Linked DNA regions of Homo sapiens. The protein of the gene in region 2 interacts with the protein of the main gene of each other region in a pairwise test. Each region holds a gene or a part of one and is shown on either strand. Other genes may lie near its edges.

What was found. The genes of interacting proteins can lie anywhere in the genome.
Region 1: the proteins of NOTCH2NLC (region 2) and ZNF837 interact in binary tests that used the Homo sapiens proteins (3 or more experiments, as listed by UniProt).

The regions. Positions count from the first base shown.
Region 1 is NC_000019.10:58,371,031-58,378,030, forward strand, and holds part of ZNF837 (zinc finger protein 837), read right to left. Parts: exon of another isoform or gene 6,553-7,000; intron 3,624-6,552; exon of another isoform or gene 1,512-3,623; intron 1-1,511. UniProt on the Homo sapiens protein: May be involved in transcriptional regulation.
Region 2 is NC_000001.11:149,449,550-149,456,660, reverse strand, and holds part of NOTCH2NLC (notch homolog 2 N-terminal-like protein C), read right to left. Parts: intron 1,344-7,111; coding exon 1,084-1,343; intron 1-1,083. UniProt on the Homo sapiens protein: Human-specific protein that promotes neural progenitor proliferation and evolutionary expansion of the brain neocortex by regulating the Notch signaling pathway.

The sequences.
Region 1 (7,000 bases), on a different chromosome or scaffold from region 2:
GGAGATCGATACCATCCTGGCTAACACGGTGAAACCCCGTCTCTACTAAAAATACAAAAAATTAGCTGGGCGTGGTGGCGGGCGCCTGTAGTCCCAGCTACTCGGGAGGCTGCGGCAGGAGACTGGTGTGAACCCGGGAGGCGGAGCTTGCAGTGAGCCGAGATCACGCCACTGCACTCCAGCCTGGGCGACAGAACGAGACTCTGTCTCAAAAAAAAAAAAAAAAAAATTGCCGGGCATGGTGATGCATGCCTGTAGTCCCAGCTACTCAGGAGGCTAAGGCAGGAGAATCACTTGAACCTGTGAGGTGGAGGATGCAGTAAGCTGGGATTGGGCCACTGCCCTCCAGCCTGGGCGACAGAGCGAGACTCCGTCTCAAAAATAAATAAATAAATAAATATTTTCCTCATTGTGATGTGATGTGAGGTTTCTCAGCCTCACACGTGATAAGTGCACAATCCTCCTGTCCCCTCCCTAGATCTCATTGTTTCCAGAACAAAGATGGATCTGTCCAGCACAGCCTTTAGACTCTGAATCCCGGATGGCTAACATCATATGCAGAGCGTGAGATGGACACACTTGTGGCACCCTCGTAAATCACTGCTTCACTCGGCACAGGAGCTCAGATTCTTCTCCTTTTGTCCTGTGTTCCCTATTCTGTGCAAGGCAGATATCCTCTTATTTTATTTTATTTATTTTGGTGTTTTTTGAGACAGAGGCTCTCTCTGTCACCCAGGCTGCAGTGCAGTGGCGCCATCTCAGCTCACTGCAACCTCCGCCTGCTGGGTTCAAGCAATTCTCCTGCCTCAGCCTCCTGAGTAGCTGGGATTACAGGTGCCTGCCACCATGTCTGGCTAATTTTTTGTATTTTTAGTAGAGATGGGGTTTCACCATGCTGGCCAGGCTGGTCTTGAACTCCTGACCTTGTGATCTGCCCACCTCGGCCTCCCAAAGCGCTGGGATTACAGGCGTGAGCCACCGTACCTGGCCAGATATCCCTTTATTTATTTGTTTGTTTGTTTGTTTATTTTTATTTATTTAGAGACAGGGTTTCACTCTTGTTGCCCAGGCTGGAATGAAGTGGCACAATCTCAGCTCACCGCAACCTCCGCCTCCTGGGTTCAAGCAATTCTCCTGCCTAAGCCTCCTGAGTAGCTGGGATTATAGGCATTCACCACCAAGCCCGGCTAATTTTGTATTTTTTTCTTAGTAGAGCCGGGGTTTCACCATGTTCACGGGGCTGGTCTTGAACTCCTGACTTCAGGTGATCCACCCGTCTCGGCCTCCCCAAGTGCTGGGATTATAGGCGTGAGTCACCGCACCCAGCCGATATCCATTTATTAAATGTCTCAGAGGGCCGGGTGTGGTGGCTCATGCCTGTAATCCCAACACTTGGGGAGTCCGGGGGGGGCGGATCACGAGGTCAAGAGATCGAGACCATCCTTGCCAACATGGTGAGACGTCCTTGACCTGATGTCACTTTTTCTGTCTGTTTTGCAGATTTCTAACAGGCAGTTGCCCTGGGCCACCTGGTGGCCTGAAATAACTTGACCGGGAACTAAAAGGACTCACGAAGCATTTAACCAAGACTCTACATGTTGACTTTTCAGCCAAGGACACTTCAGAGCGACTGGCTGCAGTTCTCCAAAGGAAGCTGCTGCCAGTTGCCCCTGGGGGGTTATTTCCTTCTTGGACATCATGACCACAATGGCAGAAATGCATTGATGGCCAGCACTCTGGGGATGAATGTTTTTGAGTGGAAATGAAACATACCAAACTGGTTAAAGACAAAAATGCAGAGTTGGACAAGTTCTGCAGGTCACGAAAGGCCTTTGAAGCAGCCAGGCCCGGTTCCTGCTCTGCTGTATGGGAGGCTGCTGGCCTGAGCTGGAGAGCAGAAAGGCCCAGTGCCAAGGGTTCAGCAAGTACCAGTCCCAGGCCAGGCATTTGCTAATAAGCCAGGGTGACAGTAAGGACAAGGGGACTCTGGTGTGATGTGAGGTTTCTCAGCCTCACTTGTCACACGTGATAACTGCACAACCCTCCTGTCCCCTCCAGGCCTGTGTGAGACAGGAAAGGTGAGGCTGCCTCTCCCTCTGCACCTTAAAGCCACTCGGGGTCTGGGTTTTCCTGAGACTTCCCGGAGCCAGATGCAGACTCCCAAAGGCGCCGATCCTTCCTCGATCTCCCTCCCTCAAGAGTGGCACTAATCAGGTCTAATTTAGAGAAAATCCATCACCTCCCCCCACTGTGGGCTCTGCCACTTCATGCCTTGGTCTCTCCACCTATCAGCCAGCTGGAGCCTGGGACTCAAGGAGGCATGCTTGGAAGTAAGGAACTTCTCTGAGTACGAGGACATCTGGGTGGTGCTGAACACCAGCATGCTTTGCCCCGTGGCCTGGACTGTGCACAGGGCACCTAGAGTGACCTGTCACCTCCCACGCAGGTGGAAGGGTGTGAGAGAGAATGGGCACTCAGTTACAAACATCCCCTTCCCAAACACTTGTGGATCTGAGTCTGAGGCTACTCCTTCCAGGTGAGGGGTTGGCTGCTGTTGTAGCTTGTTACTCTCTTTCTGTCCCTTCTGCCCTCAGGTCTTGACCATGCAGCTTCCCAAGAACAGGATGGGGAATGATATGGGCACATGGGGAGGCAAGCAGCCACAGGCCTCACCTGCTCATGGGCACTGACCGTCCCAACAGCAGGTGGACATGAATCTAACCCACAGACACCAGAGTAGAGGGAGCTGGGCTCCCTGAGTCTGGATGGGGTTCTCACAGGCCCCCACAGGGAGACAAGGGAAGCTTTCTCCAGAATGTGGAGTACGGACTCACTGTGTGAATAAAGTAAATGAGCTGGAGGGGGCGGGACAAGATTTCAAAAAGCACCACTCATACACCCAGGACTGGCAAAGCTGCTGGCAGTAAGCTCTATCATGGGGCTCCCCCACTGCAGGTGAGCTGATTGGCCTCAGCTGGCACCATCCATGCTCAGTGTTTGCCCTGAGGACAAGAAGACATGGCAAAAAAGAGGAAAGTACAGAACACACTCCCACCTGGCTGGTGGGGATATAGATAGTGCAGCTGCTGTGGAAACCTTCAGCTCCACAGAAAGGTAAAGATGGAGCTACCACACCCCGAGTAATTCCACCCCTAGGTATCCACCCAAGAGAAATGAACTCAGGCATTCAAGCAAACACTGGCTCACAGATGTTCAGAGCAGCGCTGTTCACAGTAGCCAAAATGGAGAAACAAGCCAAGTATATAAAATGACAAATGCATAAATAAGATGTGGTATATCCATAGAATGGGATATTATTCAGCCATAAAAATGGATGAGTACTAACACATACTGCAACATGGACTTTAGAAAACATGGAAAGTAAAAGCAGTGAGTCACAAAAGACCACATATTGCATAATTCCATTTATACGATATATCCAGAATAGGCAAATCCACAGAGACAGAAAGTAGACTGGTGGTCGCCAGGGGCTGAGGGGAAAGAGTGGGGAGTAATTGCTTTACGGGTATCAAGTTTTGGGGTAATTAAAATGTTCTGGAAATTATAGTGGTGATGGTTGCACAACATAGTGAATATATTAAAACCTAAAAAATATACTAAAACCTGGCCAGGCGGTGGTTCACACTTGTAATCCCCGCACTTTGGGAGGCGAAGGTGGGAAGATTACTTGAGGCCAGTTCGAGACCAGCCTGGCCAAAATGTCGAAACCCCATCTCTGCTAAAAATACAAAAATTAGCCGGGTGTGGTGGCACATTCCTGTAGTCCCAGCTACTTGGGAGACTGAGGCAGAGAATCACTGGAACCTGGGAGGTGGAGGCTGCAGTGAGCCGAGATCGCACCACTGCACTCCAGCCTGGGCGACTGAGCAAGACTCCATCTCAAAAAAAAAAAATTATATATATATATACACACACACAAAAACATGGCCGGGCACAGTGGCTCACGCCTGTAATCCCAACACTTTAGGAGGCTGAGGCAGGTGGATCACTTGAGGTCAGGAGTTCGAGACCACCCTGGCCAACATGGTGAAACCCTGTCTATACTAAAAATATGAAAATTAGCCAGGTGTGGTGGCAGGCGCCTGTAGTCCCAGCTACTTGAGAGGCTGAGGCAGAATTGCTTGAACCTGGGAGGAGGAGGTTGCAATGAGCCGAGATCACAACACTGTACTCCAGCCTGGGCAACAGAGCGAGAATCTGTCTCAAAAAAAAAAAAAAGTATATATATATATATATATATATATATATATATATATATATAAAATTACATATATACTTAAGAGTATATATTTATATAGAATGTAAATATATATTAGAGATATATATATACTAAAACCCAACCTGAATTGTAAAATGGTTCATTTGTTACATGATTTATATATTTTTGTTTTGTTTTGTTTTGTTTTGTTTTTTTGAGACGGAGTCTCCCTCTGTCACCCAAGCTGGAGTGCAGTGGTGTGATCTCAGCTCACTGCAACCTCTGCCTCCCGCGTTCAAGCAAGTCTCCTGCCTCAGCCTCCTGAGTAGCTGGGATTACAGGCATGTGCCACCAAGAACGGCTAATTTTTGTATTTTTAGTGGAGATGGGATTTCACCATGTTGGTCAGGCTGGTCTCGAACTCCTGACCTCATGATCCGCCTGCCTCGGCCTCCCAAAGTGCTGGGATTACAGGTGTGAGCCACCTCGCCCAGCTGATTTATATCTTTTTTTTTTTTTTTAAAGCAGAATGCACCCATGCCACAGTGCTCCTTCCTGCAGCCTGTCAGGCGTCGGCCCACCCTGCAACATCCAGGATGTCATTTGAGCCCTGGTCACACGAAAGCACTGCATGGGATGAAGGTGGTTTATTTATTTATTTTTATTTTATTATTTATTTATTTTTTTGACACAGAGTCTCGTTCTGTTGCCCAGGCTGGAGTGCAGTGACACAATCTCGGCTCACTGCAACCTCTGCCTCCCAGGTTCAAGCAATTCTCCTGCCTCAGCCTGGCGAGTAGCTGGGATTACAGGTGCCTGCCCCCACGCCCAGCTAATTTTTGTATTTTCAGTAGAGATGAGGTTTCACCCTGTTGGCCTGGCTGGTCTCAAACTCCTGGCCTCAAGTGATCCCCCTGCCTCAGCTTCCCAAAGGTGCTGGGATCACAGGCACAAGCCACTGCGCCCGGCCGAAGGTGGTTTCTTTTAAGCAATACATTTGTATTGAGAAAAACAAGTTCTTGGCCGGGCGCGGTGGCTCACGCCTGTAATTCCAGCACTTTGGGAGGCCGAGGCGGGCGGATCACGAGGTCAAGAGATCGAGACCATCCTGGCTAACACGGTGAAACCCCATCTCTACTAAAAAAAATACAAAAAATTAGCCGGGTGTGGTGGCAGGCGCCTGTAGTCCCAGCTACTCCGGAGGCTGAGGCAGGAGAATGGCTTGAACCCGGGAGGCAGAGCTTGCCATAAGTCAAAATCAGGCCACTACACTCCAGCCTGGGTGACAGAGCAAGACTCTGTCTCAAAAAAAAAAAAAAAAAAAAAAAAAAAAAAAAAAAAAGAAAGAAAAGAAAAAAGGAAAAAAAAAGAGAAAAACAAGTTCTTTTAAATCTCTAGGTAAAAATAAAATAATTTCTCACACACAGCCAAGTCAACTGCATACCAGAGTACCAAGCATAGTTTCCACATCAGAGGCTTAAGCTCTGGGGTAAAAGCATTTTCTTTAACCAGGTGTCTGTTAATTCACTCATATCAAAGAGAAAACTTGGCTGGGTGTAGTGGCTTATGCCTATAATCCCAGCACTTTGTGAAGCCAAGGTGGGTGGATGGCTTGAGCCCAGGAGTTAGAGACCAGCCTGGGCAGTATGGTGAAACCCTGTCTCTATTAAAAAAAAAAAAAAAAATGGCCGGACGTGGTGACTCATGCCTGTAATCCCAACACTTTGGGAGGCCAAGGTGGGTGGATCACGAGGTCAGGAGATTGAGACCAGCCTGGCTAACATGGTGAAACCCCATCTCTACTAAAAATACAAAAAATTAGCCAGGCGAGGTGGCGCGCACCTGTAATCCCAGATACTCGGGAGGCTGAGACAGGAGAATCACTGGAATCCGGGAGGCGGAGGTTGCAGTGAGCCAAGATCGTGCCACTGCACTCCAGCCTGGGCGACAGAGCGAGACTCCGTCAAAAAAAAAAAAAAAAGGCTGGGCGCAGTGGCTCACACCAGTAATCCCAGCACTTTGGGAGGTGGGCAGATCACGAGGTCAGGAGATTGAGACCATCCTGGCTAACATGGTGAAATCCCGTCTCTACTAAAAAATAGAAAAAATTAGCCAGGTGTGGTGGTGGGCGCCTGCAGGAGAATGGTGTGAACCCGGGAGGCGGAGCTTGTAGTGAGCCGAGATCTTGCCACTGCACTCCAGCCTGGGTGACAGAACGAGACTCCATCTCAAAAAAAAAACTATCCAGGTGTGGTGGTGCAAGCCTGTAGCCCCAGCTGTCAGGAAGCTAAGGTGGGATGATCGCTTGAGCCTGGGAGATTGAGGCTGCAGTGAGCTACAATTGCACCACTGCACGCCAGCCTGGGCAACACAGTGAGACCACATCTCAAAAAAAGAAAGCAAAGAAAACTCTTCATTAGAAACTGAACATGCTCGCTGGGAATGATATTCAGGGCACAGGGCAATTCCTTACAGGGGCACACACCCAAGGGCACTGCTGCCACCACATGGGAAGTTGTGACGGGAGGGAGGAGACTGAGGGCAGGACACAAGACATGGAGACACACATTCTGGTCTGTCTGACCATGGAGCTCTGTCCACACCCAGGCTGCCTGCTGGCTCCCAACCACCACACACAGTATCTGGCGTTTCTCACAGGTGTCGGCTTCTCTCTCTCGAGTCCATCTGCTGGCCGTGGACCTGGCTATTCGGGGCAGGCCCATCCTGCCCACCTCCCCACACTCTCTCAAGCCTCTGTCTCTGAGCACTGCAGGTTTTGTA
Region 2 (7,111 bases):
GGTTGGCTTGGGTGACTGAGTTGAAATGAGGTCAGAACAAGGGACAGGGAGTTTCTAGCGTGGGTATTTGGGATGTACATGGTTGCTACGTATTTCTGTCAACAAGGTGAGCTGAAAGTACCTGTAGAATATCTCCAAGGAGAACATACAAAGGATAGCTAGAAACATGAGCCTGAATGTCAGGGTTGGGTGGAGCTAAGGGAATGATGGTGAGATTCATCAGCAAGCTAATGAAGACAGTGGCAGTGGAGGCGAATACAGACAGTGAAATTCCCTAGGGAGAGCTGTGATGTGGCTCAAAAGAGGGCGAAAAACAGTGCTCCAGGGAGCACAAACATTTAATGGATAAGAACAAGGTAATGAAGAAGCAAAAGGAACAGGGTTCAGAAAACCAGAAAAGCCAGTGCCCTGAATGTCTAGGGAGGGAGATTTCTAAAAGCAAATAGTCAATAACATCAGCAACTTTTCCTCTGGTGACAGTGTACTTATTTCTTTTAGTGAAGTAAACTCTGATTCCCCATCCTGGTGTACATATTTTTTTTTTTGAGACAGGGTCTCACTCTGTCACCCAGGCTAGAGTGCAGTGGTGCGATCATAGCTCACTGCAGCCTCAAACTCCTGGGCTCAAGCAATTCTTCCACTTCAGCCTCCCAAGTAGTTAGGACTACAGGTGCACACCACCACACATGACTAATTTTGTTTTATTTTTATTCTTGTTTTTTTGTAGAGATGGGGTCTTGCTATGTTTCCCAGGCTGGTCTCAAACCTCTAGCCTCAAGTGATCCTCCTGCCTTGGCCTGCCAAAATGCTGGGATTGCAAGCGTACGCCACCGCACCTGGCCCTGACATATATACTTTAAGCAGTCAAAGTATTTGGTCCTTTTTCTTTCTCTTTCTCTGCCCCCTGAAACTCTTAAAAGGAAGTTAGGGATAGTTGTCTGGAACATCCCAGTTCCTTATCATAATGTTAAATGTGCACCAGAGCTGGGGGACATTTAAGAGCCAGATACCATGATCTAAAAGATGCTAAATAAAGGTATCTGCTGAAGGTAGGAAAGCACTGGCTTTGGTCTCATTAGTTACCTGTAAACCCGACTTGACAGGTGCACTCATAGGTATCCCGGCTGAGCATATGGCATGTGCCGCCATTCAGGCAAGGTCGAGACACAAAGCATGGATGAGATGTCGAGTACTGGCAGTCCTCTCCTGTAAACCCTGAGGCACATCGGCACGTGGCTTTCCCCAGCATGGCCTGGGCCACACAAGTCCCACCATTCTGGCAGCGGTTCTTCTCACAGGGGTCTCGATGTTGACAATATTCCCCCAAGAAGCCTTCTGGACATCTGTATGGAAAAGAGAAGAGTCCATGAAAACACCTGACTTCTTGTAAGTCCAAAAAATTACAGTAAAACAATACAGTCCAATCAAGAAAGCACGAGATTGTGAATCAACAGACCTACAAGGACCACCTATAAAACTGCTTCCCTTTAGAAGAAAGAGTCCTTAGAGAACTTAACCACATACTCCCATGTCCTTTTGAGTCCTGGCAGGTGACAGAGTATCAGCTGTATGGTCTAGCAGGGTCTGCCATGGCCAGTCAACATGACCCTTATTCAAACGCAAAATGCACCCCAGCTTTTTTTCATGTGTGTACAGGTTGGGATGGTGTAACAGCACCTTTTTTAGAGCACTGTTCGTACTTGTCTGCTTAAATTCATTAACTTTCTCATTTTGACTAAGCCATTTGATAGGATTAAGATGTCCACAATATAATGCATGAACTTGACCCTATTATCCCCTCCAATTTAAAATATGTAAGGTATCATGTGCTTTTCCTCAATTAAGCATTGAGAAATAGTAAGTGCTTCTTTCTCTTATTTCCACTGAAACATCAATTGGCTGATACCTAGTTTTCTGGGTTATGTTCAGGTGGCTGACATTACAACAGAAAAAGGGAAAGGAGGTACAGGAATGGGGAAGAGTTCAAAGGGATATTTAAAAATCTGTTAATATTTAAGTAGGCATTTTTAACCAAATAAAAAGGCACAAAATATAATTAAATAACATAAAATATCTAAGATACCATATAAACACCAAAGTGAAGGAAGGAATCAATTGAAGAATAACATTCTATGATATTTTCCACATTGAGGCACTGAGGAACCTTTTTACATGCCACCCCTTGATTCATAAGATGTACAACCATTTCAAACTGTGTGTATTATTTATGACAATTTTCTCTGAACAATATCAAAAAGGCATGGTAAGTCTCCATTTTCATAATGAAGTTGTTTAAATGGAATCTCTGAGAAGCATTTAAATTAAGAAACACAAACACTTTGATTCTAACTATAAATGCTGCTATATATTTGGCTGGTGCCCCAAATATGTGATTCAACTTATTCCTCGTTTTAGTTTTCAGGGACTAGAAAACTGAATCTAGTAGGCTGTTCCACCATTACCTCAAAGATTACACATTTAAACCAAACTCTAAATCCCCCTCTCAAAAACCAGCTTTTCTGTGCCCAAGCCTTGTTGTCCTGATTTTCCTAATCATTGTGACCTGAAACATTGGGGTCATGAGTGCTTTTGTCTTTGACAGTCATATCCAAGACCTTTCATTAACCATTGGTTGGCAAGGCTAGCTAGCAGGGGTCACAGTTACTGAGAAAAGAAGGAAGGCCAGATACTAGGGAACTAAGACAGAAAATGCCCAGAAGAATTGTGTAGTAGCTAAAATGGCTAAAGGAGAAAACAGGGTGGTGAATAGCTATAGTGGTAGTGAGGTAACTGGCCACAGCCTCTTCACCCCTCCCAGAGCTGCATAAGATAAGCATGGCAGAGCAAGGAGCGGCTAAGGCTCTGGGCATCTTCATGAGTAGGTGTAGCTACAGACCAACAGGCAGTGAAGAAAGTTCATAGCACTGAAACCAAAGATGGCATGCAGGTGACTGTGAGGAGTCTGTATCAAGAAGGTCAGAAGGTCTGGTTTGGAGTTCTGGTGCTGTGACCTTGGACAAGTTACTTATCTTCACTGACTATCCATTTTCTCACATTGTAAATAGTTAATAAGGTCACCTACATCATGAGATTATTCTAAGAACTGAACAAAATCAAGTATGTAAAAAACCTTATAAATGTTAAAAAGTTTTGCAAGTGGGCTGGGCACAGTGGCTCACACCTGTAATTCCAGCACTTTGGGAGGCTGAGGTGTGAGGACCATCTGAGGTCAGGAGTTTGAGAATAGCCCGGCCAACATGGTGAAACCCTGGCTCTACTAAAAATACAAAAATTAGCCAGGGTGGTGGTGCACGCTTGTAATCCCAGCTACTCGGGAGGCTGAGGCATGAGAATTGCTTGAACCCGGGAGGCGGAGGTTGCAGTGAGCCGACGAGATTGTGCCACTACACTCCAGCCTGGGCAACAGAGTGAGATTCCATCTCAAAAAAAAAAGTTTTGCCAAGTGAAAACATCTTTTCTCTCTTCTTTGTGCTTATTGAGGAAAATACAATGCCCCATCCAAATCACAGCTTGATTTGAGAATAGTTTCTTGTGTTGGTTTTTTGAAGTGGAGGAGCAAAAAGTGCCAATGTAGCATAGCTAAAATTAACTCTGAGATATATTATTAAAAGCATTTGCAGCTTATTCAAGAAATGTGTTATGAATGTTAAAAACTGCAACACAATTCTCACTCACAGTGCAGCCCTCTGGGCATTATTAGATGACTCTTCATTCTCCCATATGGGAATTATGCACCTTCTAAATAATGGCAAATTTTTAAACGTGGGTGGGCTTTGCTCAGCTTTGCTCCTGAACTATTACACCACCCTAACACTATCATGTGGCATATGCTAAGAGAATGCAAAGTCATTTAAATGGTAGCATCATAAACATATAATGGAAATATAAGGTTCCCAGGAAAACAAAAATGAAGCAAAATGGAAGTTTCTAAAGCTAAACAGATGTATTTCTGAATTATTTGTTTCTACAGTTTAATTCACATTGTTGCTCCCTATCAAGTATGGAAAAATAAGTTTTAACCTAAGATATATTTAAGAAATCAGTAAAACCAGAGATTGACAAAGTACAGTTTGCAAGTCTAATTTGGACCACTGCCTGTTTTTGTTTGGCCTGTGAATAGTTTTTTACATTTTTAAATGATTAGAAAAAAAGAACAAAAGAAGGATATTTTCTGACATTTCAAAATTATATACAATTCAAATTTCAGTGTCCATAAATAGTCTTACCGGAACACAGCCATGCTCATTCATTTATAGATTGTCTATGGCTGATTTTCCACTACAACAACAGAGTCAAGTAGCTGTAATGAGACCACAAAGCCTGCAAAAATAATTACTCTCTGGCACTTTACAGAAAAAGTTTGCCAACTTCTGAGTAGAGAACATATGAAGGCTAATTCTATAAATACCATCCAATATGCTTATTAATAATGATCGGTTTCTGATAGGAAATCAACCTTATTAGTTTCCACAAAGAATATTAAACTTATAATCGTTCATTCACACAACAATTAGTAAATGCCTATTATGTGCCAGGCATTTTTCCAGTGCTAGAAAAATTCTTACACTCTTGGAGTTTACATTCTAATAGCGGAAGACGAAAACAAAATTACTAAGTAAAAGATGCACAATAGATGGAGTTAAGTGCTGTGAAAAAAAATTAAACAGGAAGGAATGGAGCTGGGGATGAGGGTGTGGGGTGAGCAAAGAGAAGTATCTCAGTTTAGAATAGGAAAATCAGAGAAGACCTTCACTGACAATACTTGAGTTGAGACCTAAATAAGGTGAGAGTAATCATGCAGGTATCTTAGGAAAACACATTCATGAGAAAGGGAACAGCAAATGCAAAGGCCATAACACAGAGAGCAGCCCTAGCGTGTTTGAGAAACAGCAAGAATATCTGGAGCAGCAGAAAATAGATGAGAGCTGTAACTGGGATGTGGATCAATTGGGGCCTTTAAGCCACTGTAAAGAAAGACTTAGGGTTTTCCTCTAAATGGGATAATACTTACATATGAGGTACAACAGACTTACTCTCCTAAAGCCCGTGTACAGAACCACATATTTGCTTTACGTGAAACTAGACCTACTGTATTAATAAAGTTTGATTTCTATTTAAAATGTTTTAGAGGGCTGGACATCAGCTTAGTTCTTTACTTTTACCTTAGAAGATATACAAGTCTCTTTTAACCCACACTTTCATGAGGTCCCATTTCCCTTTCCAAATTATTGTTTCACAGCTAACCTTCTATGACTGTAGCCTAATTTCAGATATTTCTCTTTCTTTTCCATCTACTTCTTACTTATCCCTCTGCAACAAAACTTTAATTCTAATTATTGCTTAGAAACTGTTTTCTAAAAACAATGACTTTCCTCTAGTCAAGTTCAGTGGTCTCATCTGAAACTTCATAAGGAAATTCTCTCTCCTATAGGGAGAATTGCTAACCACTCCATGTACCGTTTTAATCATTTTACCTTGGCTTCTATGACTCCCTCTGTCTAACTCAAAACCCAGTGAAGTCTTAGTCTGGATTGCTGATTTCTCCTTCTTCCCCATCTATTATGGCCACCCTAATGTTTAAGTCTGGACTGCACTGCTCTTTCTCTCAAATGCATTTGTTACTGTTGTTGTTCACTTGGTTTTAAACAACTTCCTTCCTGTAACTGACTCCAAAATACACTGTTCCAGTCCCATATGTTCAGTTTTCTAGAAGTCATCTCTCTATCCTAATATGTGCTGCCACTATTTGAAACTAAACATTTGTAAAAGGAGATCATCTTCCCAAGAAACTTTAATTATTCAATTTTTCTAAGGCTTCCACACACAATTTAAAGTAACTTCATCTCTTTAAGTTGTATATAATTTATTACCACATTCTGACAAGACTTGTTAACTGAATTCCTATAATACTTATCATTCGTGTTCACAGTTTCCTTTTTGATACAAATTCTGATCATCTTAAAAGCCTCAGGCCAGACATCATCTTGTTGCTGGCTTTTCCCCCATTTCCAGCCATCCTTGGAAAAACAGAACCTTCAGATTCAAGAAATTTAATTTCTATCCAATTAAGTAATCATTTCTAAAATATTTCTAAAAGATGATCACCAGCCTCTGCTTGAATACAAGCATGTAGCATGGTGCCGGATAAATCTTGAGAATTTAATAAATGCTTGGAGTTATTATTGTTCTGCTCTTAAGAGTACAGACTCTGGAACCAGACCACCTGGATTTCAATCCCAACTCCACCATTTACTCAATGTGTAATCTTGGGCAAGGTACTAAACTTCCCTGTTGTAAAAGAGATGTAATAACAGTGCCTACTTCATAGGATTTTTAAATAAGGGTAAAGCACTTAGAACACTATCCAGCACATAGTAAACACTATGCATTTGTTAAGTGAAATTACTGGCTGACTACTTCAACAAAAGAACAGTCTTCAATGTGGTGGATTCCACTGTGAGAAAGCTCTTTCTTAATTCTTCAAATTCTGCCTCCCTTCCTAGGTATATACCCGAGATAACTGAAAACATATGCCCACATAATAAAAATGTTCATAGCAGCATTATTCATAATAGCTAAAAAGTAGAAACAACCCAAATGCCTATAAGCTGATGAACAGATAAATAAAATGTGGTATATCCATAAATGAAATATGTGGCCATGAAAAGGAATGACATTCTGATACATGCTACAACATGGATGAACCTTGAAAACATGCTAAGTGAAAGAAGCCACACACAAAAGGCCACATATTATATAATTCCATTTATATGAAATGTCCAGAATATGCAAATCCGTAGAGATAAAAAGTAGATTAGTGTTGCTAGGAGCTGTAAAGAAAGGGAAATAGACAGTGACTACTAAGCAGTAGAGAATTTCTTTCAGGGTGATAAAAATGTTTTGAAATTAGATAATGGTGGTGGTCTCATAACTCTGGAAATACTAAAGTCTACTAAATTAAACACTTTAAAAGGGTAAATTTTATGATACATAAATTATGTCTTAATTTTGAAAAGAACAAACTTTGTCTCTCTACAATTTCCAGGTTATCTCTACCCTCTAGAACAAAAAAGAACAAGCCTTCTGCTTC